Linked DNA regions of Homo sapiens. The protein of the gene in region 3 interacts with the protein of the main gene of each other region in a biochemical or structural test. Each region holds a gene or a part of one and is shown on either strand. Other genes may lie near its edges.

Evidence for each region.
Region 1: the proteins of DLG1 (region 3) and AKAP10 interact in a test that uses a peptide from one of them, tested with the Homo sapiens proteins (one large-scale study listed by IntAct).
Region 2: the proteins of DLG1 (region 3) and CNKSR2 interact in a test that uses a peptide from one of them, tested with the Homo sapiens proteins (one large-scale study listed by IntAct).
Region 4: the proteins of DLG1 (region 3) and GAB3 interact in a test that uses a peptide from one of them, tested with the Homo sapiens proteins (one large-scale study listed by IntAct).
Region 5: the proteins of DLG1 (region 3) and CACNA1A interact in a test that uses a peptide from one of them, tested with the Homo sapiens proteins (one large-scale study listed by IntAct).
Region 6: the proteins of DLG1 (region 3) and ABCC6 interact in a test that uses a peptide from one of them, tested with the Homo sapiens proteins (one large-scale study listed by IntAct).
Region 7: the proteins of DLG1 (region 3) and DACT1 interact in a test that uses a peptide from one of them, tested with the Homo sapiens proteins (one large-scale study listed by IntAct).

Annotation. Positions count from the first base shown.
Region 1 is NC_000017.11:19,967,829-19,971,328, forward strand, and holds part of AKAP10 (A-kinase anchor protein 10, mitochondrial isoform 1 precursor), read right to left. Parts: intron 634-3,500; coding exon 586-633; intron 1-585. UniProt on the Homo sapiens protein: Differentially targeted protein that binds to type I and II regulatory subunits of protein kinase A and anchors them to the mitochondria or the plasma membrane.
Region 2 is NC_000023.11:21,372,996-21,377,222, reverse strand, and holds the start of CNKSR2 (connector enhancer of kinase suppressor of ras 2), read right to left. Parts: upstream 2,801-4,227; 5' UTR 2,326-2,800; coding exon 2,262-2,325; intron 1-2,261. Other genes in the region: uncharacterized protein LOC105373146, read left to right, coding at 2,801-3,240.
Region 3 is NC_000003.12:197,047,113-197,050,612, forward strand, and holds part of DLG1 (disks large homolog 1), read right to left. Parts: intron 1-3,500. UniProt on the Homo sapiens protein: Essential multidomain scaffolding protein required for normal development. Recruits channels, receptors and signaling molecules to discrete plasma membrane domains in polarized cells.
Region 4 is NC_000023.11:154,713,078-154,716,577, forward strand, and holds part of GAB3 (GRB2-associated-binding protein 3), read right to left. Parts: intron 3,253-3,500; coding exon 2,949-3,252; intron 350-2,948; coding exon 130-349; intron 1-129.
Region 5 is NC_000019.10:13,496,480-13,499,979, forward strand, and holds part of CACNA1A (voltage-dependent P/Q-type calcium channel subunit alpha-1A), read right to left. Parts: intron 1-3,500.
Region 6 is NC_000016.10:16,153,995-16,157,494, forward strand, and holds part of ABCC6 (ATP-binding cassette sub-family C member 6), read right to left. Parts: intron 1,861-3,500; exon of another isoform or gene 1,798-1,860; intron 1,038-1,797; coding exon 879-1,037; intron 801-878; coding exon 634-800; intron 1-633.
Region 7 is NC_000014.9:58,644,462-58,647,961, forward strand, and holds part of DACT1 (dapper homolog 1), read left to right. Parts: intron 1-796; coding exon of another isoform or gene 797-907; coding exon 908-2,673; 3' UTR 2,674-3,500.

The DNA.
Region 1 (3,500 bases), on a different chromosome or scaffold from region 3:
GCCGAGATGGCACCACTGCACTCCAGCCTGGGGATAAGAGCAAGACTCCATCTCAAAAAAATAAAATTAAGGTAAAAAAAGCCTACTTACGGCCGGGTGCGGTGGCTCACGCTTGTAATCCCAGCACTTTGGGAGGCCGAGGCGGGCGGATCACAAGGTCAGGAGATCGAGACCATACTGGCTAACATGGTGAAACTCTGTCTCTACTAAAAAATACAAAAAATTAGCCAGGCGTGGCGCCGTGCACCTGTAGTCCCAGCTGCTGGGGAGGCTGAGGCAGGAGAATGGTGTGAACCCGGGAGACAGAGCTTGCAGTGAGCCAAGATCGCGCCACTGCACTCCAGCCTGGGTAACAGAGCAAGACTCCGTCTCCAAAAAAAAAAAAAAAAAAAAAGCCTACTTATTATATGCTAGATGTTAAAGCATTATACAGGTTAAAGAGGGAAATAAATCAAAATCATAAGTAATTATAAAATAAGGCAGAAATGATTAATGCCAAAAGAGAGAGTATAACAGGATTAAAGAACTCACAAATGCAAAGCACATCACTTTTTAATGCAGTGGACTGCCAAGGGCAGAACTTACCTTTAATGGACTTCACATCTGAGGTCTTCTCTTGTTCTTTGCCTTTCACTAGAACATAAAAAGATAATTATGACCAACTTTTGCAGTCAGAGATCCATTCTATAACACTGTAAAAATTAGACCAGCTTTATTCTAAGATGAGTATTCAAAGTTCTAGAACAATGGACAGCCTTGGAGGAGGGCACAGGAGGGTAGTTGTCAGCAAAGGCTTCTCTAAGGAAGTGACCTTGGAACAGCATCCAGTCAAAAGAGTTGAACCTGCTTATGGAGAGACAATGTAGTCACAACATCTGGGGTCAAATTCTGGCTCTACCACTTATAAGCCATGTGATCTTGGACAAGTTACTTACTTCTCTGGGTCTTAATTTTCTTGATTTATAAAATTAGGTCAATAATAAAAACTACCTTAGAGGATTATTGATGAAAAAAAATATATACCTGTAAGGGGCTTAGAAGAGTAACTAGCACAGTAAATTGAGGACAAATGCTAACCAATATTATTACCATGTGTCATCCATAGTACTAGCTACTAGAAGCATAGTGAAGAAAGGTCTTTGGTTGTGTATCATATCTTATTACTTATTCCTCCCATAGCATCAAGTGAAAACATCCTAAGCCTCTAACACTCAGAGTATAATAATTTGTCTGGGCCAGGCACGGTGGCTCACGCCTGTAATTCCAGCACTTTGGGATGCCAAGGCGGGTGGATCACCTGAGGTCAGTAGCTCAAGACCAGCCTGGCCAACATGGTGAAACCCCATCTCTACTAAAAATACAAAACAATGAGCTGGGTGTGGTGGCGGACACCTGTAAGCCCAGCTACTTGGGAGGCTGAGGCAGAGAATTGCTTGAACCCAGGAGGCGGAGGTTGCAGTGAGCCGAGATCGCGACACTGTACTCCAGCCTGGGAGACAAAGAGAGACTCCGTCTAAAAAAATAAAAGATAAAGAATAATTTGTCTGTAAAATAATCATATAATTGCTTCCTTACTACATAAAACAGTAAAAATTCTGCTGTAGATAAGCTAATATGACATCCAAGATAGGAAGGTGCCCAGCAGCTTAAGCCAAGTGTGAATTCTATCACAGGATCTGACATAAGACTATTTTTAACCCTCTTTTCTTGTTTTTTTTTTTCAACATTAAAAAATCTTACCAGGAAAAGGTTATCAAAATAAGAAATGCCAAAACGTGCCCATCTCTGTATTTGTGCTCTTAAACATTGAAAGGTGAAAGGCTAGTAGCAGGAAATAACTCGCCCTCAGAGTATCTGGATGAAGTCAATACATCAACTGTTGAGTGCTTGGTATGTGCCAGACATGCTCCCAGCTCAGAAAAGGCAATGATTTTGCCTTCAAAAAGTCTACATTCAAGTGTGTGGAGACTAACATGAAAAAAATAAATAAGATCGTTGCAGGTACTGATCACTGCTGTCAGGAAGACGACATTTAAAAATGTTGTAGGGTCACTGGTGTTTGCAGCCCTCTCAGCAGCATCTGCCCATGGACTACATCACTCACTTTAAACATTAACTTGTCTTGGCTTCCTTGACTCCTCTCTTCTGCATATACATCTGTATTTCCTGGCTGATCCTACCCATTCTTAAGGCTTACAATACCATAGATACGCTGTTACTCCTAAATTTATATCTCCATCCTAAATCTTTTATCTCAAATTCATATAGCTAACCACCTACCTGCCATCTTCCATAATTCCACTTGTCTAAAAGGGAACATGTCATCTTCTCCCAAACCTGTTCCTACCTCAGTCTTCATCTTCCCTCATGAATGACACTGTCATCCACCCACTACTCAGACCAAAATTCCGGAAGTCATCCTTAACATGGTCTGTTTATTACCTTCCACATACAAACTATGACCAACTGATTCTACTGCCAAAACAAACCACCACGGTTCCACTTTTACCACCTAAAAACATTCTCCTACTATCAATCAGATCTCCTATGTTATACTTCTAACATATACACAACTCAACAATCAAATATCAGCATTTTGCTTTATTTCCTTCTGTCCCCCTAAGTATTATACATAGACTTTAGAGTTCCTATGAATCACCACCTGACCCTTCCTTTCCCAGATATAAATACTTACTAAATTAGATATTTCCTGGCCAAGCGCAGTGGCTCACACCTGTAATCCCAGGACTTTGGGAGGCCAAGGCGGGTGGCTCACTTAAGGTCAGGAGTTCGAGACCAGCCTTGCCAACATGGTGAAACCCTGTCTCTACTGAAAACACAAGAATTAGCAGGGTGTGGTGGCGGGTACCTGTAGTCCCAGCTACTTAGAAGGCTGAGGCAGAAGAATCGCTTGAACCCGGGAGGCCGAGATTGCGGTGAGCTGAGATTACACCACTGTACCCCAGCCTGGGTGACAGAGCAAGACTCTGTCTTAAAAAAAAAAAAATAAATAAATAAATAAAGACATTTTCCTTCCATGTACGTTTTTTGACTATGACCACATACAAATACTTTTTATTTTTATTTTTTTGAGACACGGTCTTGCTTTGTTGTCCAGGCTAGAGTGCAGTGGCCTGATAACACTCGAACTCCTGGGCTCAAGTGATCCTCTCATGCCACCATACCTAATTATCCTTTCTGTTGTTGAGATGGGGTCTTGCTATCTCGCCCAGGCTAGTCTTGTACACCTGGGCTCAAGTGATCCTCCTGCCTCAGCCTCCCAAAGTGCTGGGATTACAGGTGTGAGCCACCACACCCAGCCAAACGTGTATATATATACATGTATGTGTATTTTTTTTAATGGCATTATTCTGCACATCTTTAAAAATCACGCAAATGGCTGAGCACGGTGGCTCACGCCTGTAATCCTAGCACTTTGGGAGGCCAAGTTGGGTGGAACACTTGAGGTCAGGAGTTCAAGACCAGCCTGGCCAACATGG
Region 2 (4,227 bases), on a different chromosome or scaffold from region 3:
GAAATTTCAGCAGTAAGTAGTCTGGGATTTGAAATATACAGGTAATTATATCATTCATTCTCTTCCAGTCATATGTATACACGATACACAAACTATCTTGGCTACCCAATTGATCTTTTCAAATAGCTCTAAAATGCGTCACCAACAGGTATGAAAACAAGGTATTCGACTTACATTTAAAAAAAATTTTCAAATCACAGCTAACAATGTTAACCTAACTTCAAAGAAGCCACATTTTAGGCTGGAAAGATTTTTAAAGGACTGGTGTACTGGACAACTAATAATGTGTGTCAGAATAGGTGCATCATATATTCTACTTGCTTCAGTGGACCTAAACTATGGAGAGAGGGGAAACTGCAAGAATATAACTGGGAGGGTGGGAGGTGGAGACTGAGTATGCAGCACTCACTACAGGCATCATGGGAATTTGCGAAAGGTAGTCTATGAAGGTAATCAGACTCCCATGGAGCCAAGATAGCTTGTCTTTTAATATTTCAGCAACAGACTCAAACTAAAGTAACCTTTTAGACAAATTCAAAGAACGGGGTTTTAAGCATTGTTGCTTCCTGTATATACTCTGGCTCTTTCTTCCATCACTGAGAAACGGAGAAGGTGGAGAGTGAGGATAATTGGTGGGAATCTAAGATATTGGAATTTCAATAGCAAATACATAAAGAGAAAAAGCAGCAGCAAAGATGAGCCACTGCAGGACTTTGTCTTAGTCATCTTTATATCCCCCATGGCACCTTAGCACAATGCACTGCACACAGGGGTGCAGTCGATAAATAATGTATTAGGTTTAATTCAATTCACTCACATTTGTACTGCTTAGCAGTTACAAAGCAGTTTCCACATATTAGAAAAGAAAAGCAAAGTAAATGAGGAATAAAGGGGCAAGTAAGGGAATAAAAGGAAAGCAAAATAAAGAAAAATCCACAAGAATAAGCAAGCGGCCAAAAAGGCTGGGGAAAAGAATGAGCAAAAAAAATCAGTTTCTCCCTGTCACTCTCAATCCCTCCCAATCACCTCACCTTTCGTTCTAAATTATCTGGAGCTTAGAAAGTCTGACTGTTAAGTAAGCCCAAGAAGGGGCTCCTTCATCGTAGGAACGGGCATTTTCAGCGATAATAAGCCTTTGGTCCCTGACTGATCTACCTAGAGTTTGCTCAGGTATGACCTCGAGCAAAGCGCTAACATTTCCCAAGTGTGGCCACGCATCCTTTATTCCATTCCATCCCATCCATCCCCTCTTCAATTCCCAAAATCTTAGGGAAGAGTTGGGCCTGAGGATCCAAGGGGTTGGTGGGTGGGGGAGTCCTCTACAAGCCCCTTAACTCAGACAACAGAGGGAGGTAGTGAGACAGGAAAGCCCAGGGATCAGAAAAAAAGCTCACGTTTGCGATTAGGAGGGTGAGTGTCTATAACTGTGGTTATTATAAATCGCCAGGGACAAAAGGGGGAACCTTCAAGATGGAAGAAATGTGAAGGTACCTGAATGCGCATCACCTTACATCTGGCGTTGAGCCCTTAATAAAAAGCCGTGAGGTCCAAAACCTCGACTGGCTTGAAAGGGAGAAAGCAGAGAAGGCAAAGGATGCGAGGGGATGCGCTGGAGGCAGCCCAGAGACAGCAGCAAGGATGCTGTCCCAGGGGAAGCATGATGTCCTCACCCTCAAAGTAGCACATACCCCCACCCTGGGCATCCTCAGCCAAATCTGGGTGTGGGGGGATGCCAGGCTCCGAATGGGGGCGGCCGCGTCCTGACCCCATTATGTGGGCTAAAAGTTGCTTGGGAGAGTTGGCGCTGGGGAAGGCACCTGGCAAGGGCGGCCGCCGAGGGGGCGTCAGCTTTCCCAGGAACAAAGGGGCCAGGAAAGGGCGACCAGGGGAGCAGGTCCTGGGGGAGTCCACCCTGAGCTGGGAGATAAGGGTCGCCACGTCCTCCTGGCCCGGGGGCAGTAAGGGGAGAGGGGAGTACGCAAGATGCGCCGGTATTCTGCCTCCCGACTTCCTGCCTCCAACGGGGTGGCGCCCGCTGCCCTCTAGCTCTCTGGCCGCTCCGCGCCCCTCTAGCTGGAGACAAAAGGAGACCGGGGACCCCAGGCCCCTGCCAGTCCTGGAGGACCCCCGCCCCGACGCGTACGACGATCCGCCAGTGGAAGCCGCGGTGGCGGGCTCTGGCGCGGCGGGCGCCCCCTCCTAACCTCGCACTGGTGCCCCGCGCCCCAGTGCCGCCTCACCCTCCCCGCAGCGGGCATTACCTTTCATCCAGTCCACTACTTGACTCGGAGACCATTTGCTCACCGGTTCCATTATCAGAGCCATGGGTACGGGGTCGGTTCCGTGCAGAGCGCAGAGCTCAGACACAAAACGAACTCAGCAGCCCGAGCTGCTCTCAGGTGGGGTCCCTTGCTGGCCGCAGCCTCCCTGGGCGGGCGGCGCGGAGAAAGCGGCTTTTGTGTGTCGGGTCTCGCGGCTGTAACGTCTTTTAGCCAACCGCCGGCAGGAACGGCGACAGGGAGGTAAACGTGCAGGAGTCGTGGCTCCGCGCCGGGTCTGCTCAGTTCCCGCTAAGGCGGCGGCGGCGGCGGCTGCTGCTGCTGCTGCTGCTGCTGCTGCTGCTGCTGCCTCCGCCGCTCCGCTCCGGTCTCCGTCCCTAGGGAGCTTCAGTTCATAGCTTGAGTTGCTGAGGGGTCGCGTCGCCGAGGGAAGCAGCCTCTGCCGCACGCCCTCAGCCAACTTGCCCGCTCGCCTCACGCGCGGGAGTGAAGCCCCGAGCACGACTAGCTGCCCGGCGGAAATGACGAGGGGCCTCCTGCCACCCAAAATATCTCTCCGCAGCCCTCGGGTGCGGGGCGCGCGCGCCACGAGCCCCCCGCCCGCTCGCTGCCGCGCGGTCCCGCCCCCAGGGCCGACGGCAGGCGCGCGAGGCGCGTGCGCGTGCGCGTGCCGGCACGAGGCCGGAGCCCAGGGTCTGTCTGGCAGGCAGACAGGTGCCAGCAGCTCGCAGCCTGGCGTTCCCGCTCTGGGGGCCGTCCGGGAACAGAGGCGCGCGAAGTGCGCGTGCGCGGCGGCGGAGGCGGTGGCGGCGCGAGGCAGAGCCAGAGCCCGGGGTCGGTCAATCAGGTGCGGGCGGCTGGAGCATGGCTTTGTGAGGCCTCTGAGGGGACCCGGCGGTGGCGGCCACGGCGGGACGGGCCGCCCACCAGTTGAACTCCGACAGCTGAGGCGGCTGAGGAGGTATCCGCGGCCCCACCACCGAGGGGAGGGGGACACCACTGAGCGCGGGGCTTACAGCGAGAGCCCGGGCTTTCCTGGCTCTCGCTTTCGCCCTCGCCCTCCCCGCTGCTGAGTGGGCTCCGGAGGTGATTCCCGAGACCCGCGTACGCCTGCAGAGACGGAGGTGTGGACTGCCGTGGACGAGAACGGGGCTCCGCCTGCCAGAAGCGCAGCGATGATGAGGCAGGAGGGCTAGTGCTGTCGGATCTTCCCCGGGTGATGAGCGGGTCCTGGGAAGTCAGGCGTTGAGGCTGTCACCTGCCAGCTGCTGGTTGTGGTGATCCTGAGACAGGTTCTGCCCCAAGTACCATTTTAAAGGGCTCTGTTTCAGGTTTTGGGCCAACTCCTCTAAAGTACCTATTTTAGAGAAGTCATTTTGTGTTTGATATTCTTATATATTAATAAGAACCGAAGGGCAACAATGGGATTTAAAATGAGTGACAAATTGTAGACATGATTTTTCAAAACTCATTTTCTTCAAAAACCATACACAGGCTACTATGCAACGGTTAGTAAAATACAGTTTGCCTAATGAGGCTTCACTTTAAAAGACAAATATTCCTAGAGTGTAGATGCTAACTCTCTGCCACCGTTATAGGCGTTTTCTCTATCATTCTTAAATAGGTCCATTAAGTAAAAGAAACTTTTTAAATAAGCATTCCAGTAATGTCAATAGGTTTTGCCAGTTCCTATGGTAACCCATTTTCTCTAGTCCAATTTTATAAGATGCAGAAATGTCACGTTCTTTAACCGGCATGAGTTGACGACACCCTTCCCCCCCACACACACACACACAAACAGCTGAAACCACAGTAGTTAAAATATTGTGACGTTTTTAACTGCTGATTTCAATGCTAGTGATAGCGAACAAGTAAAATTTAAGATGGCCTGTATTTAGGCTTCTTTATTTTTCTAACTATCCAAACTTAGAAGTATATGCAGAATTTT
Region 3 (3,500 bases):
GATTAGAAGAATAGTGAAATACTAATAAGATCTATAGTTAGATGAGACATATAATTATTAAATTTCCTGATTTTGATAATAAAACTATGATTCTATAAGGGAATATCCCTGTTTTTTAGAAAATACACACTGAAATATTTAGAAGTAAAGGGACATCTACCTGAAACTTACTCTCAAGTGTATCAGAAAAAAACCTATAAATGTGGTAAAATGTTAACACTTGAGGAATTTGGGTGAAGGGTACATGAAACTCCCTGTACTATTCTTGTAACTTCTATTTAAGTCTGAAATTAGTTTGAAAAAAATAAGAAAGCACAAGGTTTAAAAACCATGACCCTTACTGATACTCAGTGTGAATGTCAAATTTAGGCTGATATTATTTCAAACAAACAAGTAACAACAACAAAAATGTCCAAAGACTTGAGGAGGAAGTTAAAGGACAAGGCGAGTAAAATAAGAATATTGGGGAGTTGCTACCTACTTTTTTTTTTTTTAAACAAATAGTATTTCAAAACGGATCAAAGGGCAACTAATCATTAAAAAGGGGCCAAGACTACACAATAGGGAAAGGCTAGTGTCTTAAATAAATGGTGCTGGAAAATCTGGATATCCACATGCAAGAGAACGAAACTAAACCCTTATCTTATACAAAATTAACTTGAAATAGACTAAAGACTTAAATGTAAAACCAGAACCATAAAACTCCTAGAAGAAAACACAGGGAAAAAAGCGCCTTCACACTGGTCTTGGATGATTTTTTGGAAAGCACAGGCAGCAAAATAAAAAATCATCAAGTGGGATATTAAATAAAAAATCTACACAGCAAAGGAACAATCAACAAAATGAAAAGGCAACCTATGGAAGAGGAGAAAATATTTCCAAACATGCAATTGGTAAGGGGTTAATATCCAAAATATATAAGAAAATCATTAGCAAAATACCAAATAATCCATTTAAAAAATGGGCAAAGGACTGGAATCGACATTTTTCCAAAGAAGACATACAGATGGCCAGCAGGTATCAGTAAAAGTGCTCAACCTCATTAATCAGAGCAACAGAAACCAAAACCATAATGAGGCTGGGTGCAGTGGCTCACGCCTGCCATCCTAACACTTTGGGAGGCTGAGACGGGCAGATCACTTGAGGCCAGGAGTTTGAGACCAGTCTGACCAACATGGCAAAACCCTGTCTCTACTAAAAATACAAAAATTAGCCGGGTGTGGTGGCATGTGCCTGTAATCCCAGCTATTCAGGAGGCTGAGGCATGAGAATCGCTTGAACCCAGGAGGCAGAGGTTGCAGTGAGCTGAGATCATGCCACTGTACTCCAGCCTGGGTGACAGAGCAAGACTCTGTCACAAACACACACGCAAACCATAATGAAATATCACCTTAGACCTGTGTGGATGGCTGTTATCAAAAAGATAAGAGATAACAAGTAGGCAATGGTATGAAGAAAAGGGAACCCTGTACACTGTTGGTGGGAATGTAAATGAGTAAAGCCATCACAGAAAATAGTGTGGACATTCCTCAAGAAATTATTATTACTATTATTATTTTTGAGACAGAGTTTCACTCTTGTTGCCCAGGCTGGAGTGCAATTGTGCGATCTTGGCTCACTGCAACCTCCGCTTCCCAGGTTCAAGCAATTCTCCTGCCTCAACCTTCCAAGTAGTTGGGATTACAGGCATGCACCACCACGCCCGGCTAATTTTGTATTTTTAGTAGAGAAAAGGGGTTTCGCCATGTTGGTCAGGCTGGTCTCGGACTCCTGACCTCAGGGGACCTGCCCACCTGGGCCTCCAAAAATGCTGGGATTACAGGCATGAACCACTGTGCCCAGCCACCTCAAAAAATTAAAAACTGAGTTATTATATGATCTAGCAATCCCACTACTCGATATATATACAAAGGAAAGGAAATTGGGCCAGGCGTGGTGGCTCACACCTGTAATTCCAGCACTCTGGGAGGCTGAAGCAGGCGGATCACTTGAGGTCAGGAGTTTGAGACCAGCACGGCCAACCCTGTAACCCTGTCTCTACTAAAAATACAAAAATTAGCTGGGTGTGGTGGCATGTGCCTCTAGTCCCTGCTACTTGGGAGGCTAAGGCAGGAGAATCAACAGAACCCAGGAGGCGATGGTTGCAGCAAGCTGAGATCACACCCGCATTCCAGCCTGGACAACAGAGTGAGACTCTGTCTCAAAACAAAACAATAAAAAACAAAAAGCCAACAACAACAAAAAGAAAACCAAAGGAAAATAAATCAGTATGTTGAAATCTGCACTCCTATGTTCACTGCAACATAATCAACAATAGCCCAGATATGAAAATCACCTAAGAGTCTGTCAAAAGATGAATGAGCCGGGCCCGATGGCTCACGCCTGTAGTCCCGGCACTTTGGGAGGCCAAGGCGGGCGGATCACCTGAGGTCAAGAGTTCGACTAGCCTGACCAACATGGGGAAACCCCATCTCTACTAAAAATACAAAATTAGCTGGGCATGGTGGCACATGCCTGTAATCCCAGCTACTCAGGAGGCTGAGGCAGGAGAATCGCTTGAACCCGGGAGGTTGTGGTGAGCTGAGATCATGCCATTGCACTCCAGCCTGGGCAGCAAGAGCAAAACTCCATCTCCAAAAACAAAAAAGATGAATGAATAAAGAGAATATTGTAGGCCAGGTGCAGTGCACCTATAATCCAAGCACTCTGGGAGGCCGAGGAAGAACGATTGCTTGAGCCTAGGAGTTTGAGACCAGCCTAGGCAACATAGCGAGACCCTGTCTCTACAAAAATAAAAAATTAGCCAGGTGTGGTGTTGCACGCCTGTAGTCCCAGCTACTAAGGAAGCTGAAGAGAGAGAATTGCTTGAGCCCAGGAGGTTGAGGCTGCAGTGAGCCATGATCATGACACTGTACTCCAGCCTGGGCAAGAACAAAACCCTGCCTCAAAAACAAACAAACAAAACCAAAAACAGGCCGGGCACGGTGGCTCACGCCTGTAATCCCAGCAATTTGGGAGGCCGAGTCGGGTGGATCACGAGGTCAGGAGATCAAGACCGTCCTGGCTAACATGGTGAAACCCCATCTCTACTAAAAATACAAAAAATTAGCTGGGCGTGGTGGCAGCTGCCTGTAGTCCCAGCTACTCGGGAGGCTGAGGCAGGAGAATGGCGTGAACACGGAAGGCGGAGGTTGCAGTGAGCCGAGATTGCGCCACTGCACTCCAGCCTGGGCGACAGAGCCAGACTCCATTTCAAAAAAAAACAACAACAAAAAAAACCCCCAAAAAAACCCAACAACAAACAACAACAAATATATATATATATGTATGTATGTATGCATGCATATGGTATATATACAACAATGGAATATTTTATTAGGCCATAAAAATGAAAATCCTATCATCTGCAACAACCAACATGAGTGAATGTGGAGGACCTTATGCTATATGAAATAAGCCAGACACAGAAAAGCAAATACTGTATTTCATTTATACGTGGA
Region 4 (3,500 bases), on a different chromosome or scaffold from region 3:
CCACTAAATGGACTAATTTGGTGAAGCACACTGAACACATCTCAGCTACGGACTGCAAGAGGAGGCAGTGTGACTCTAGAGAGCATGCTAGCAGGCCCAGCTCAGACAGAGTCCTGGGCATAAGCATACCTGGTATGGTGCAGTCTTCCAGTCTCGCAGTTGGACAAAACCAGATAATCTGGAAGGAAGAGAAGCTCTGACTCACTTCTGGTTTCCTCAGTGGCTACGGCATTAGTGTTTGGGTCATCTCTTGGCAAAGAGGAGCTGGCAGCATGGGCGGTAAGAAGGGAGCTGGCAGAGGATGGCTGCAGGGAGGAGGGCGTGTAAGAGAGGCTCTCCATGGAATCTGCTGGAGAAATCATTTCCCAGGTTAATGTTTAAGAATGGCTATAACACGCACTCAAAATTTCTCCAACAGCATCAAAGAAGCCAAACAGAAGATGCAAATCACAGCTGGTGTTTGTACTGATGGAGAAGACCATTTCCCCAAGCTATAAACAATGTCTGGGAAAGAAGGCCAATGTTTCAAGAGCAAAGTGTTGAATCAATTAAGAGTAAAAAACCCAGCATTCTTGGCCCAAAAATCTGCAGTTAATCTACGCACAGCTTCTTTATGGCCCTCAGCAGCAGCCTTGCCTCATTGTTTTTTCACTCAACTAACAAACATATATATATATATATATATATATATATATATATATATATATATGCATAACAAGTACATGCATATAGTTATATATGTACTTGTGCATATATGTATGTATACCTATACATGTTTATTATATAGGTATATGTCTATATAGAATACCTATTACATCTACCATGTGCCCAGAATGCCACTAACCCTCAATACAGCCAAGACAAAGATCCTGCCCTTATTGAAGTTTAGATTCTAGCAGAGAAGACAGACAAATAACACATAAATAAAGAGTCCTGTTCATCACTGTTATAAGTAAAGGGAAGGAAAGAAACACAGTGCTGTGGTGGCTGGAAAAGTCCATTTCTTTTTCTCAAGGAGCATAACATTCTCCCCATCACCTGAGAACATGGTCCTTAAGATGAATTTGAATCAGGAATCAATGAGAACTCCAGATCAGAAACAGCCAATGAAAAGCCTGCTTTTATTTCCCTTTTGAACCAAGTTAATAGTCCAGGATTCCTGAGTCAGGATGACCCAGAACTAACTAGGTTCAAGTCCAGGCTCTACTACATAGCCATTACTACATGGCCTGCCTTCTCCAAGTTTCCTTTTCTATAAAGTGGAGATAGTAATCACACATAGGCCATAGAACTGCTGTGGGGATGAGACAAGTTAATATACAAAAGCATTTCAACAGAGATCCTGGCCAGGGTACACACACAATGTGTTGACTACTATATGGTTGCTGGAGACAGAACCAAACACTCTGTGAAAAGTCACAAGAAAGCCCTTTGGGTGTAATTCTCAGATGAAGAGGACCCTGCTCTTATGTGGTTCTAAAAACTGAGGCGGGGGGCTACAGAGAATGGAAAGGGTCATAGGTGAGTTTTCTGGCTTCCTCCAACTTCATGCCGGGACAGGCTCTCCAGTTTCGGCCTGGTGCCTTACTCATTCCTGGTGCTCTTGGGTTATTGGGAAACATATTATATATGTATGTTTTAGGATAACTCCTGGATAAGGAAAGAAACAGAGGAGATATATAACACAGTATACGACGATATACCTAGTTAAGGCTGAAGGTGCACAACAGGGTGGTAAAGAGCCAGCAGCAAGGCTGGAGAAGTTAGTTGGTCAGGGAGGTTCTGCTTGATTTGCATAATGTCAGACTCTAGCCAGAACCTACTTAATGCTGCTTTTCCAATTAAGTTTTGTCCATTGTACCAAGGATAAAGAACTTGCCATCACTTCATTTCCTTTTATTTGAGTGCTCCCAATGCTCAGCAATATTATTGAATAGCCTCACTTAATATGCTTCCCTGGTTCATGAAACGAAAAGGAATGTGTTCTCAGAAAGCACACTCTTGTGCCTGTCCTGGAGGGAGATTCAATTCTGACTCTCCATTGCCACCTAGCGTTAGAGTGTGGATATTTCAGTGGCAGATGGTGGAAACCATGCAGTAACTCTTAAAATGTTGAAGCAACTATAGATTACAGGATTTAGGGGCAAAGTTTTGTCTACTAGACTAAGAGGCTAAAAGAAACCAGATTCAAAATCTCATATTTTGAGGAATAGGACATGTTGCAATAATGTCAGGGGCTCAACAACAAAATCCATGAAGGGAAGTTAATTGTAACCCTAGGTTACAATATACCTGGAAAATTACATAGGATGAGTTGTGTGTGTGTGCGTGTGTGCGTGTGTGCGTGTGGCAGAGAGAGAGAGAGAGAGAGAGAGAGACTCTGGGGTACTCTTCATGGGTCAATTGCTCCCACTGCCCAGAAATGGCCCAGAGCAAACTTACAACTAATTTCCTCTGCAGAGAACTTGAGACATTTGGAGGTATCAGGAAATCTTTCTTGCCTACGATAAGTAGCCAAGTTCTCTCTTTCTACCATTTAGTGATGAACAACCCAATAGGCACCAGAAATGCTGGAGTTCCACAATATTTTGAAGTATGGCAATATTTGATATTTCTAGAAGGTCATGAGTGTCAGCATCATGGGAAGACATCCTCATCCACATTTGACTTTCACTGTGGCTGAATGAGAGCAAAGACATGAAGGGGTTTTAAAGCCATTAAAGTAACCTGCAATGCTCAGTGTGCTCATGGACTCTGCCTTCCCACATTTGGACTGGGTAAAAGAGGGCAATTTCCAGTATTGTATTTGGTAGGAACAGTTCTGATATAAATTAGCCTGCCAAAACACCCTCAAGGAGGCAGGCTTGGCATCTTGAACTGTTTTTCTGCAGTAACCCTCCAGTCCTGGGATACCCCTTAGCACATGGGAGCCCCAACTCCGCTCTTACCTGCACCATCCTCCAGGTGGCCAAGGTTGCAGACCTGACTGATGCTGTGCACCCACACCTGCATTTCTTGCTCAGTTTTGGCCACCAGGTAGAATGTACGGGAAGTAGTCTTGACAATGAACACGAAATTATTCTGAAATTCCTTCCGAACAAAGCTGGGGCCCACATGCTTCCACACTGCACACTCGCTGAGGTCTATCACCCGGATGGGCTTGCTGGAGTGCTTGTTCCTGTAGTACTCCAAGACATCGGGGTTGCCGCTCATGCGGCCTCGCCGGAGGACAAACCAGCGCTTGCGCCAGGCCTGCAGAAAGGCAATTCAATAAGGAGTTACTGGACCAATTTCTCTTGTTTCTCAGGCTATGCCAAGAACCCATGTCATGACAAGGACAGCAGGAAGGAAACAAATCAGCCATTCTAATGATGAAACGCTTTGTATTACAGGACTAGTGCCCATCTTCAAGTCCGCTTTATTGGATGATTTTAAGGACGGGTCAGGATTGGAGAGTCTAGTAATGGGATTCACACCCACAGTTTGAAGGGCCAGAATTA
Region 5 (3,500 bases), on a different chromosome or scaffold from region 3:
AAACATGGAAGAAGGATTGCTGAGACGTGGGGAAAATCCTACTTGGGCCTAGGAATCATGGAATTCTAGTATGGACAATCAATGAGACCTTGTGATTGTGTTCTCCTTGGCTTATATATTGGAGCAACAGTGATTCAGCTGATCATTCAGAAGAATGGGTTAACAACACAGACGCCAAAAATAACAGAGATCAAGGGAGTTGAGAGACTTGGCAAGAAAGAGCAGAATATTAACACTTATGCAGCACCTACTGTGTGCCACACACTATTCTCAGCAGTGGATCAGAGAAGCCCAAATATGGCCACCCACATAAGTCCATCCATCTATCCACTCTTCCATGTATAAACACATATAGTGCTTCCTAAGTGTCAGGCACCACTCTAAACATCAGATGTATTAACTCATTTAATCCTCCCAGATAGGAGCTATTAGGATCCCCATGGAGCTATTAGAATCACCACTGGGACAGACTGGGAAACTGAAGCACAGAACACTTAAGTGACTTGCCCAAGATCACGCAGCCAGTGACTAGTAGAGCTGGGATTTGAACCCCAGCCACCTAGCTCCAGAATCCATGCTCTCAACTCAACCATGCTGCTTCTCTACAACCATATCAATTGCCAGTGTCTAAACCACAGGTTCTGACTCTCAGAATACAAGCAGGACCAAGAGCTAACCGGTTGACCCAGCCTCTTAGAGAAAATGATGAGTAAGCTGTGAAATGTCTTAGCTCCTGCCATAAATGCTGATGAATCTCAGCTGATTCTAGGTGAAGCTAGATTTCCAAGTACACAGACTAAAATTAACACCTCGAATTCATTCATTCAAAATTATTGATTCCTTACAGCAGCATTGTTCATAACAGCAAACAAACAAACAATCCCCCACCCCAAACTAGAAACATCCCAAATGCCCATCGTCCTGCTTGAACCCGGGAGGCGGAGGTTGCAGTGAGCCGAGATCGCGCCATTGCACTCCAGCCTGGGCAACAAGAATGAAACTCCATCTCAAAAAAAAAAAAAAAAAAAAAAAAAAAAAAAAAATATATATATATATATATATATATATATATATATATATATATATATATATATATATATAAATTTATGTTGTTAAAGCTGGGTACGGTGGTGCATGCCTATAGTCCCAGCTTCTCGGGAGGCTAAGGCAGGAGGATCGCTTGAGCCTAGGAGGTCGAGGCTATAGTGAGCCATGATCATGCCACTGCACTCCAGCCTGGGTGACAGAGTGAGACTCTGACTCAAAATAAATAAAATAAAATTCATTGAGTTGGCTACTTCACAGGATGATTATATATGCCATGTGCTTTCTGGGTACAGTATCTTTTAACCTTCTTACAATTCCTCGGACATAGGACTACTGTCCCCGTTTTACAGAGGAGAAGACTGAGGCTCCACAACTGTGAGCTGGAGCTGAGATTTGCAGCCAGGGTGGACTGTTCCCAAGCTCTATATGTCTCCCCTCCATCCAATATCACCTTCCCTCCTCTTTTCCTCCTTACAGCCTCCACTGCTTGTGCTGTTAATCAAACAGACACATTCCTATGCAGACGCCACAACATGCCACGAACACATTTCACTGCAGTGATGGTCAGCATAGCCCTCCCACCCACACACACCATGCCCATCATTCTCAATAAAGAAGATAATAAAGATCATGGAGATAAAAGAACGTGACAGACTCTGGAAGATCAGAATCCATGTAACACCACTGCGGGCCAAGTTTTAAGTCTGCCCCAGAGTCTCATTGAAGACAAATCCATCCACTTTTACAAAAAGGTAACATCCAGACTTCGCCCTCCTGCAAATGCTGTTCGTATGAAAATACTTTAAAAATCAGTTTAAAATTACATATATTTTTTACACATAGGCCTAAAATGAGAACAGAACTTAACAGCATGAATATTATTTACTGGCAAGTGGGTGACTAAGTTGGGTTTCCCTCATGGCTTCAGAGAGGGGACTCTTGAATCCTGTTATTTGGGGGCTGGGGGTGGGAGGCTGCTAATTTCTAACTGCAGGTGCCGCCTGAGCAACAGGCACCTTTAAGGAAGACTCACGGCTGCTCCCAGTCTGAACGGCAGATAAAGCCGTGTCTGACCGAAGCGAGATGTCAAAACTTGATCCGGACTTAACTCAGGCATTTCCCTTCATAGCTGGAATCTCTCTTGTATTAGCTGCCTTAAAGACGGCTTCTAAAAGCTGCATTCATTCCAATAAAAAGTCTTGGCTTTTCAGAGGGAATAAGTAACTGACTCTCCCCCTTTCTTGGTCAACGGCACCATCTCTTGCACCATTCTTCTCTCTCAGGTGTTAAGAACTCACCATTAGGGTGACCAGCGTCCCAGTTTGCCCAGGACTGTGAGTTTCCAGAGATGCTAAACCCAGGATAGTCCCAGGCAACCCTGGCTGAAGGGTCACCCTACTCAGATAAGAACTGAGGCCCAGTGGTTTTTGAAACCTAAGTTGCTGTGCCCACTCATGGTTCCCTCGCCAGGAATGTTCCTTGTTTTTCCTATTTTTTTAGGGAGTGAGGAGAAAGAAGACCAAAGTTTGGAAGGGGAGGGGGGTACCTAAATTCTAAACCAAAAGTTGAGCAAAGTTTTTCTGTGGAGTTTGCAGTGGACACCTGGGGTGGCCATCCTGGGCTGCACTCTCGACCGGCCCCAAAGGAAGAGACAGGGAGTGCAAAAGGGGAAGAGGGAAGCTAATTATATACTTTAAAACTCCCTCACCTTGTCACCCACAGAGAGAGGGAGGGACCAAAGGAGGAAAGAGAATTAATTTTTACCTTAGACTCAAGGGAATAGAAAAATGGGTCAAGTGGCCACGAATTTTTTTTCCCCTGAAAGCTTCCAGAGAGAACGGAGAATGCAAAATGTCCAAAGGTGGCTTTAAAGAGCGCCACGATCAGGTTAATCAATCCACACTGACCAGTCGCAGGGGGTGGTGGGGGGGGGCACTTCGCTCCCATTCCCACCCAGAAAGCCTCTTTTCTGGCCGGTTTCCAAAAAAAGAACACTGGAACCTAAATGACTCCATAGTATTACGGCTCTGGCGTTTTGGGGTTTTTCTCTGTGCTGGAGACTGTGCTGGCCATTTTTCACGCACGACCCCATTTAATCTCCTGAGAGCCCTCCAAGGGAGATGCTACTAGAAGGAATATCCTCATCATGCATGTCAAGAAATAGGCTCTGGTGCCCAAGATAACATGGCTGGTGAATAATGTGAACCTGGGCCAGTCTGACCCAGAGTCCGGAGTGTTTTCCCTCTCCTCTCTGCCCTCTTTCAGAGCAGGCACCATCCCATCCGGCCCTTTTCTCAGGAGCTGAGCTGGCATTCTCGGAAATGCGTTACTGCACGGCTCTTAGGCTCTGATCATTTCTGGATGGAGTCCACCTTCCCGGCGGTGCTTTTTATTGCTGAGAAAGTGTATATGTGTGCTTGCTACTGGGGGGGAAACAGGGAGGGGGAAGCATA
Region 6 (3,500 bases), on a different chromosome or scaffold from region 3:
GATGGAGTGCAGTGGTGCAATATCGGCTCACTGCAACCTTCGCCTCCCTGGCTCAAGCGTTCTTCCCACCTCAGCCTCCCAAGTAACTAGGACTACAGGTGCATGCCACCATACCTGGCTAATACTGTTGTCCACAGAGATAGGGTCTTGCTATGTTGCCCAGACTAGTCTCGAACTCCTGGGCTCAAGCAATCCTCCTCTCTCAGCCTCCTGAAGTGCTGGGATTACAGGCATGAGCCACTGTGCCCAGTCCACACTTGACATTTACCAAAAAAAAAAATCCTATATTATAGTCCCAGTGAGTGGTGAGGTTACCACCCGATATCAAACAATATTTTCATAGCAAAATAAATACTGAGCAAGAGCAATAAAGGCTATCAGTAGCCCTGTGTCAGTTGAGGTTGGGTTTTGCCACCAAGTAAATATAGAAGACTAACTGCTAATTTAGGGGGGAAAACCTTGGTATTCAGAGACTGTGTCAGAGCTTGGAATTGCAGATAAGAGACATGTGGTTATTAATGTAACAGAGTGATAATCCTATCGGGGGAGGCATTTCCTGAAGGCCCTTGGGGAGGGCATGGCCATCCCCTCCTCTCCCACCTGCAGGTCCCAGCCATGGTGGGACGACCATACCTCAGGTCCTCGCCTCGGTCAGCACACTTGTACTGCAGCTGGCCGGGCAGGCTGGCCACCAAGGCTTTGAGCTGCACCGTCTCCAGGGCTGCCCAGATAGCCTCGTCCGAGTGCTCCTGCAGCAGGTCGAGGTTCATCCGCAGAGAGCCAGGGAACAGGATGGGGTCCTGGCGGGGAGGGGCGGTGGGTCAGAGCCGGGTCCCACCATGCCTCCCATCTTTGCCCACCCCCTCCACCAGCCTCACCTGGGGGATGATGCTGATCCTGGAGCGCAGTGTGTGCAGCCCCACGTGGGCAATGGGGACCCCGTCGATCCAGATCCCACCCTCAGCTGCCTCCTGGAGCCGCAGCAGCCCACTGGCCAGGGAGGACTTCCCTGCCCCGGTCCTGCCAACGATGCCCACCTGCCCGGGGTTGGGAGGAAAGGCCTGCTCTGACCAGAGGGTTTGTGGGCATTTATTGGGGAGATCTTTCTGCTGTACCCGAGATCTGTCTATCCATCCCTCATTGTGTAAAGGTCTACCTTCCATCTCTCTTTCCATCTGTCTACCTTTCTATATATCCACCCATCAATCCATCCAGTCTTCCATCTGTGTTCTTCTCTATCTTTCCCTTATCCTGATATCTCTCTCCCATCTTTCTCCCCACCCTTCCTTTAGTTCCTCCATCTTTCCTCATCCTTCTATTTACACCTCTCCATCATCTCTCATCCTTTTTTCTACCCCATCCCATCCATCTGTCTGTCCGTCCATCCATCCCTTATCCTTTTTTCCACCCCATCCTGCCATCCATCCATCCATCATCCATCCTCAATCCCATCCCTCCATCTCTCTTCCACCCCATTCCATTCATCCATCCATTCATCTGTCTATCCGTCTCTCGTTTCTTCTTCCCTATTCATCCATCAATTCACTAATCCTTTCATTCATTTATTTTCTCCCATCCATCCATCCAGTCCATCCTTCCCTCATCCATCCTTCCATTCATCCTCCATCTTATCCATGTGTCCATTCTGTTATCCATCTCCCATGCTGTTATCCACCCTCCATCCTTATCTCTCTTGCTACTATTGCATCCTCAGTGTCTGACACATGGTGTGGGTTCAACATTATTTGTTTAATTAATGATGGAAACATGTGGGTCACCCCACTGTATGCCAAGTACCTGTTTAGGCACCGGAAGTATAGAAATTAAAGAGTCCTTGCTCCAGTGTGCCCATCATCCGGTCTAGGAAACAGTGCAATTGAGTAAATGTAATACAGTGTGATGAACAATGCTTTATTTATTTATTTATTTATTTATTTTTGAGATAAAGTCTTGCTCTATTGCCCAGGCTGGAGTGCAGTGGTGCGATCTCAGCTCACTGCAACCTCCACCTCCCAGGTTCAAGCAATTCTCCTGCCTCAGCCTCCCTAGTAGCTGGGACTGCAGGTGCCTGTCACCATGCTCGGCTAATTTTTGTATTTTTAGTAGACACGGGATTTCACCATGTTGGCCAGGCTGGTCTCAAACTTCTGGCCTCAAGTGATCTGCCCACCTTGGCCTCCTAAAGTGCTGGGATTACAGGTATAAGCCACAGCACCCAGCCAACAATGCTGTTTATTATCAAGGTCTGGACCTCTGGCAATTAAGGGAAGCAAGGCAGTGCTGCTCATGCTGCCTGGGATTTGACAGAGGTAATAAGAGAAGACCTCATGGAGGAAGGGATACTTGCATGGAAGCTTGAAGGATCAATAGGAGTTCAAGGAAGGGGAACACTCCAGGTAAACCACACCAAGTGGGTTTCCAAAACTAGAAGCTCATGGAGCTCACAGCACCATGTGCCCCCCTGGCCGAGAGGCAGCTGCTCCACAATGTTGGCTAAGCCCTGGCAGAGCAATGAATGAGAGGGGGAGGTTGGCAGGGCCTGGGTTGGGTAGAGCCTTGAATGCCAAGCTCAGGAATTCACACTTTACCCCAAGGGAAGCTGGAACTAGTAGAAGGTTTTGAGCAGGGGAATGACATGCAGTGTCATTCATGCTGATAAAGGTCACAGGATGGCTGGGCATGGTGGGTCATGCCTGTAGTCCCAGCACTTTGGGAGGCCGAGGGGGGTGATTGAGGTCAGAAGTTTCATAGCAGCCTGGCCAACATGGTGAAACCCTGTCTCTACTAAAAATACAAAAATTAGCCGGGTGTGGTGGCAGGTGCCTGTAATCCCAGCTACTCAGGAGGCTGAGGCAGGAGAATCACTTGAATCTGGGAGGCGGAGGTTGCAGTGATCTAAGGTCACACCACTGCACTCCAGCCTGGGCAACAGAGTGAGACTCTGTCTCAAAAAAAAAAAAAAAAAAAAATCACAGGAGAGCAGATTGGAGCTGGTGAGACAGGATCCACTGCTTTTTAGGGGACAAGGAGAGGACAGGGAGGAAGCCTCTGTAGGTTCAGAGGGAGGGAGGAAAGGGATTCAGTGAAGGGGCCTGATGAGGCATCTGTAAAATGGGATAGTACTAGCACCTCACTTAGGGGTTGTTGTGAGAGTGAAAACGCAAATAATAAAAGCATTAGTAAACATTTCTGGAGCACTTTCTATGAGCTAAGCATGTTCTATGTATTAACTCAAACTTCACAACAACTCAGAGATCAGTATTACCAGTCCCAATTTACAGATGGGAAAACTGAGACTGAGCTATGAAGTGCTTTTCCCAATGTCTCCCAGCTGAAAGCAAATATCCCATTTGTGCAAACTGGAAAATGTACCTGGAGCATTTAACACACTGCCCAGCACATATTAGGTGCTGGGTTAATGTTAAAGGAAGAAGGAAGTCACGGAGTTGCTTCCTCATCTGGGGACACCAAGGTGGATGAGGAAGTCACCAGATGGAAGC
Region 7 (3,500 bases), on a different chromosome or scaffold from region 3:
GGCCTAAGCGATCCTCTGGCCTCAGCCTTTTGGTGTTAGGATTGCAGGCGTGAGCCATCATACCTGGCCCCTGTTTTATTTTTTTAGCATCACTATTGAAAACATAAGGCGATTATTATTTAAATCTGATCAGTTTTTACTGAAGTTTGATCAGTTTCCATCACCTTTCAATTGACAGTTATATTTGAATGGATGTCATTAAGAATTAGGTTTAAAAAAACACAAAATGAGGAGAAAGCCTACTGAACGTACAGTTTATCCTAAAGAAAGCCAGGAATAGAACAGAGGGGAGAGCAGCCTAGAGAAACAGTGATTCAAAAAATGTTTCCCAGTTGTAAACGCAGTACAGACAGTTTAACAGAAAATAAAGAAGAAAGTAAATATCACTTACTTCTGATCATTCTGAAATACTACTACTAGAATCTTGGTGTGCTTCATCTCAGATGTTTTTTCTTTGCATACATGTGATCCTAATAAGATTATAATCATATTCTAGTATTATATCATGATTTTCACTAAACTTTAAAGTGTTTTCCCTCTATTATGCAGTAGTTTGAAAACACTCTTAATGGCTGAATTTTTTTCCTTCAGAGGATATATCATATGCTGTCAAAAATTTTTGTTAAATATTTCCCCCTCATCCAGTAGCAGTACCTACATGTGAAATGGTAGGGCAGCACTTTTTAATCCTTGGCAATCTCTTTTTACCCATGGATTTTTCATAAAAATTGGCCAAAGAGTCAAGCTGGTGCTGACCAATTCATTTCTTCAGAGTGTACCTTTAACTGTTTTTCAGATCTCATAGGATTGTTGGAATATAAAGAAGGCCACTGTGAAGACCAGGCCTCAGGGGCAGTTTGCCGTTCCCTCTCCACACCACAATTTAATTCCCTTGATGTCATTGCAGATGTGAATCCCAAGTACCAGTGTGATCTGGTGTCTAAAAACGGGAATGATGTATATCGCTATCCCAGTCCACTTCATGCTGTGGCTGTGCAGAGCCCAATGTTTCTCCTTTGTCTGACGGGCAACCCTCTGAGGGAAGAGGACAGGCTTGGAAACCATGCCAGTGACATTTGCGGTGGATCTGAGCTAGATGCCGTCAAAACAGACAGTTCCTTACCGTCCCCAAGCAGTCTGTGGTCTGCTTCCCATCCTTCATCCAGCAAGAAAATGGATGGCTACATTCTGAGCCTGGTCCAGAAAAAAACACACCCTGTAAGGACCAACAAACCAAGAACCAGCGTGAACGCTGACCCCACGAAAGGGCTTCTGAGGAACGGGAGCGTTTGTGTCAGAGCCCCGGGCGGTGTCTCACAGGGCAACAGTGTGAACCTTAAGAATTCGAAACAGGCGTGTCTGCCCTCTGGCGGGATACCTTCTCTGAACAATGGGACATTCTCCCCACCGAAGCAGTGGTCGAAAGAATCAAAGGCCGAACAAGCCGAAAGCAAGAGGGTGCCCCTGCCAGAGGGCTGCCCCTCAGGCGCTGCCTCCGACCTTCAGAGTAAGCACCTGCCAAAAACGGCCAAGCCAGCCTCGCAAGAACATGCTCGGTGTTCCGCCATTGGGACAGGGGAGTCCCCTAAGGAAAGCGCTCAGCTCTCAGGGGCCTCTCCAAAAGAGAGTCCTAGCAGAGGCCCTGCCCCGCCGCAGGAGAACAAAGTTGTACAGCCCCTGAAAAAGATGTCACAGAAAAACAGCCTGCAGGGCGTCCCCCCGGCCACTCCTCCCCTGCTGTCTACAGCTTTCCCCGTGGAAGAGAGGCCTGCCTTGGATTTCAAGAGCGAGGGCTCTTCCCAAAGCCTGGAGGAAGCGCACCTGGTCAAGGCCCAGTTTATCCCGGGGCAGCAGCCCAGTGTCAGGCTCCACCGGGGCCACAGGAACATGGGCGTCGTGAAGAACTCCAGCCTGAAGCACCGCGGCCCAGCCCTCCAGGGGCTGGAGAACGGCTTGCCCACCGTCAGGGAGAAAACGCGGGCCGGGAGCAAGAAGTGTCGCTTCCCAGATGACTTGGATACAAATAAGAAACTCAAGAAAGCCTCCTCCAAGGGGAGGAAGAGTGGGGGCGGGCCCGAGGCTGGTGTTCCCGGCAGGCCCGCGGGCGGGGGCCACAGGGCGGGGAGCAGGGCGCATGGCCACGGACGGGAGGCGGTGGTGGCCAAACCTAAGCACAAGCGAACTGACTACCGGCGGTGGAAGTCCTCGGCCGAGATTTCCTACGAAGAGGCCCTGAGGAGGGCCCGGCGCGGTCGCCGGGAGAATGTGGGGCTGTACCCCGCGCCTGTGCCTCTGCCCTACGCCAGCCCCTACGCCTACGTGGCTAGCGACTCCGAGTACTCGGCCGAGTGCGAGTCCCTGTTCCACTCCACCGTGGTGGACACCAGTGAGGACGAGCAGAGCAATTACACCACCAACTGCTTCGGGGACAGCGAGTCGAGTGTGAGCGAGGGCGAGTTCGTGGGGGAGAGCACAACCACCAGCGACTCTGAAGAAAGCGGGGGCTTAATTTGGTCCCAGTTTGTCCAGACTCTGCCCATTCAAACGGTAACGGCCCCAGACCTTCACAACCACCCCGCAAAAACCTTTGTCAAAATTAAGGCCTCACATAACCTCAAGAAGAAGATCCTCCGCTTTCGGTCTGGCTCTTTGAAACTGATGACGACGGTTTGAGTGACATCATTGGTGTAGAAAGTTTGTGTGTTTTTTTTTCTTCTCCCTAGTTGCCAAAATTAAAAAGGTGGTGTTTTCATTTTTGTATAATACTTTAATGGAATGCTTTTTAAAAAAATATAAAACCAAGGTAAATTATTGTTTCATCTTCACGTATGGATGCTAGTGCCTTTAATGGAAGGTAAAGAATGTTTTGCTAGTTAGAAGTACATATTGAGGTTTTAATGGTGGTGATAGTGAGTTTTGTGGCACCAGCTGTTTTTTATTTTAAACTTTCTGAGCATCCGGCAAGGTACAGGTTTTGATGTTCAAGTTTTATTGGGATAAGATCTTTTGATCCCAAGGTCAGGTGGATGGAATTTTTGGATTTATATTTGTTCCTTGAGTCTTCAGGGCAGTGTCTCCATGAGGGTTTTCCTGTTGAGGGGCACCACATACAATAGTGTGAAGTAGGTATGAGGGGCAGTCATTGTATTCTATAGTTTTTTTATGTAGTCTACATTTCTCAGATGTATCCCCATTCGGTTTTATTCTCAGAACTGTTACTAGACTCATGACTTGGAGGCCAAACCTTAAATCCAGAGATAGCAGCCTCGATAGGGACCTTAAAAGGATTCACAAAAACTTTTGCCACACTTGGTGCCTAGGCCCTGTTCCTAATAACCCCTTCTAGGGCCGTTTATCCAACATTTAGATGCCTTCTTTTCCCTCCCTAATTTGTAGCCAGTCCAACCTTTCATTCCTTGGAGGATTTAGTTTTGGGATAAAATTTTGGTCCTTGGGCACAGAGACATTCACTATTAATGAAGTAACCCTTGGGCATGACT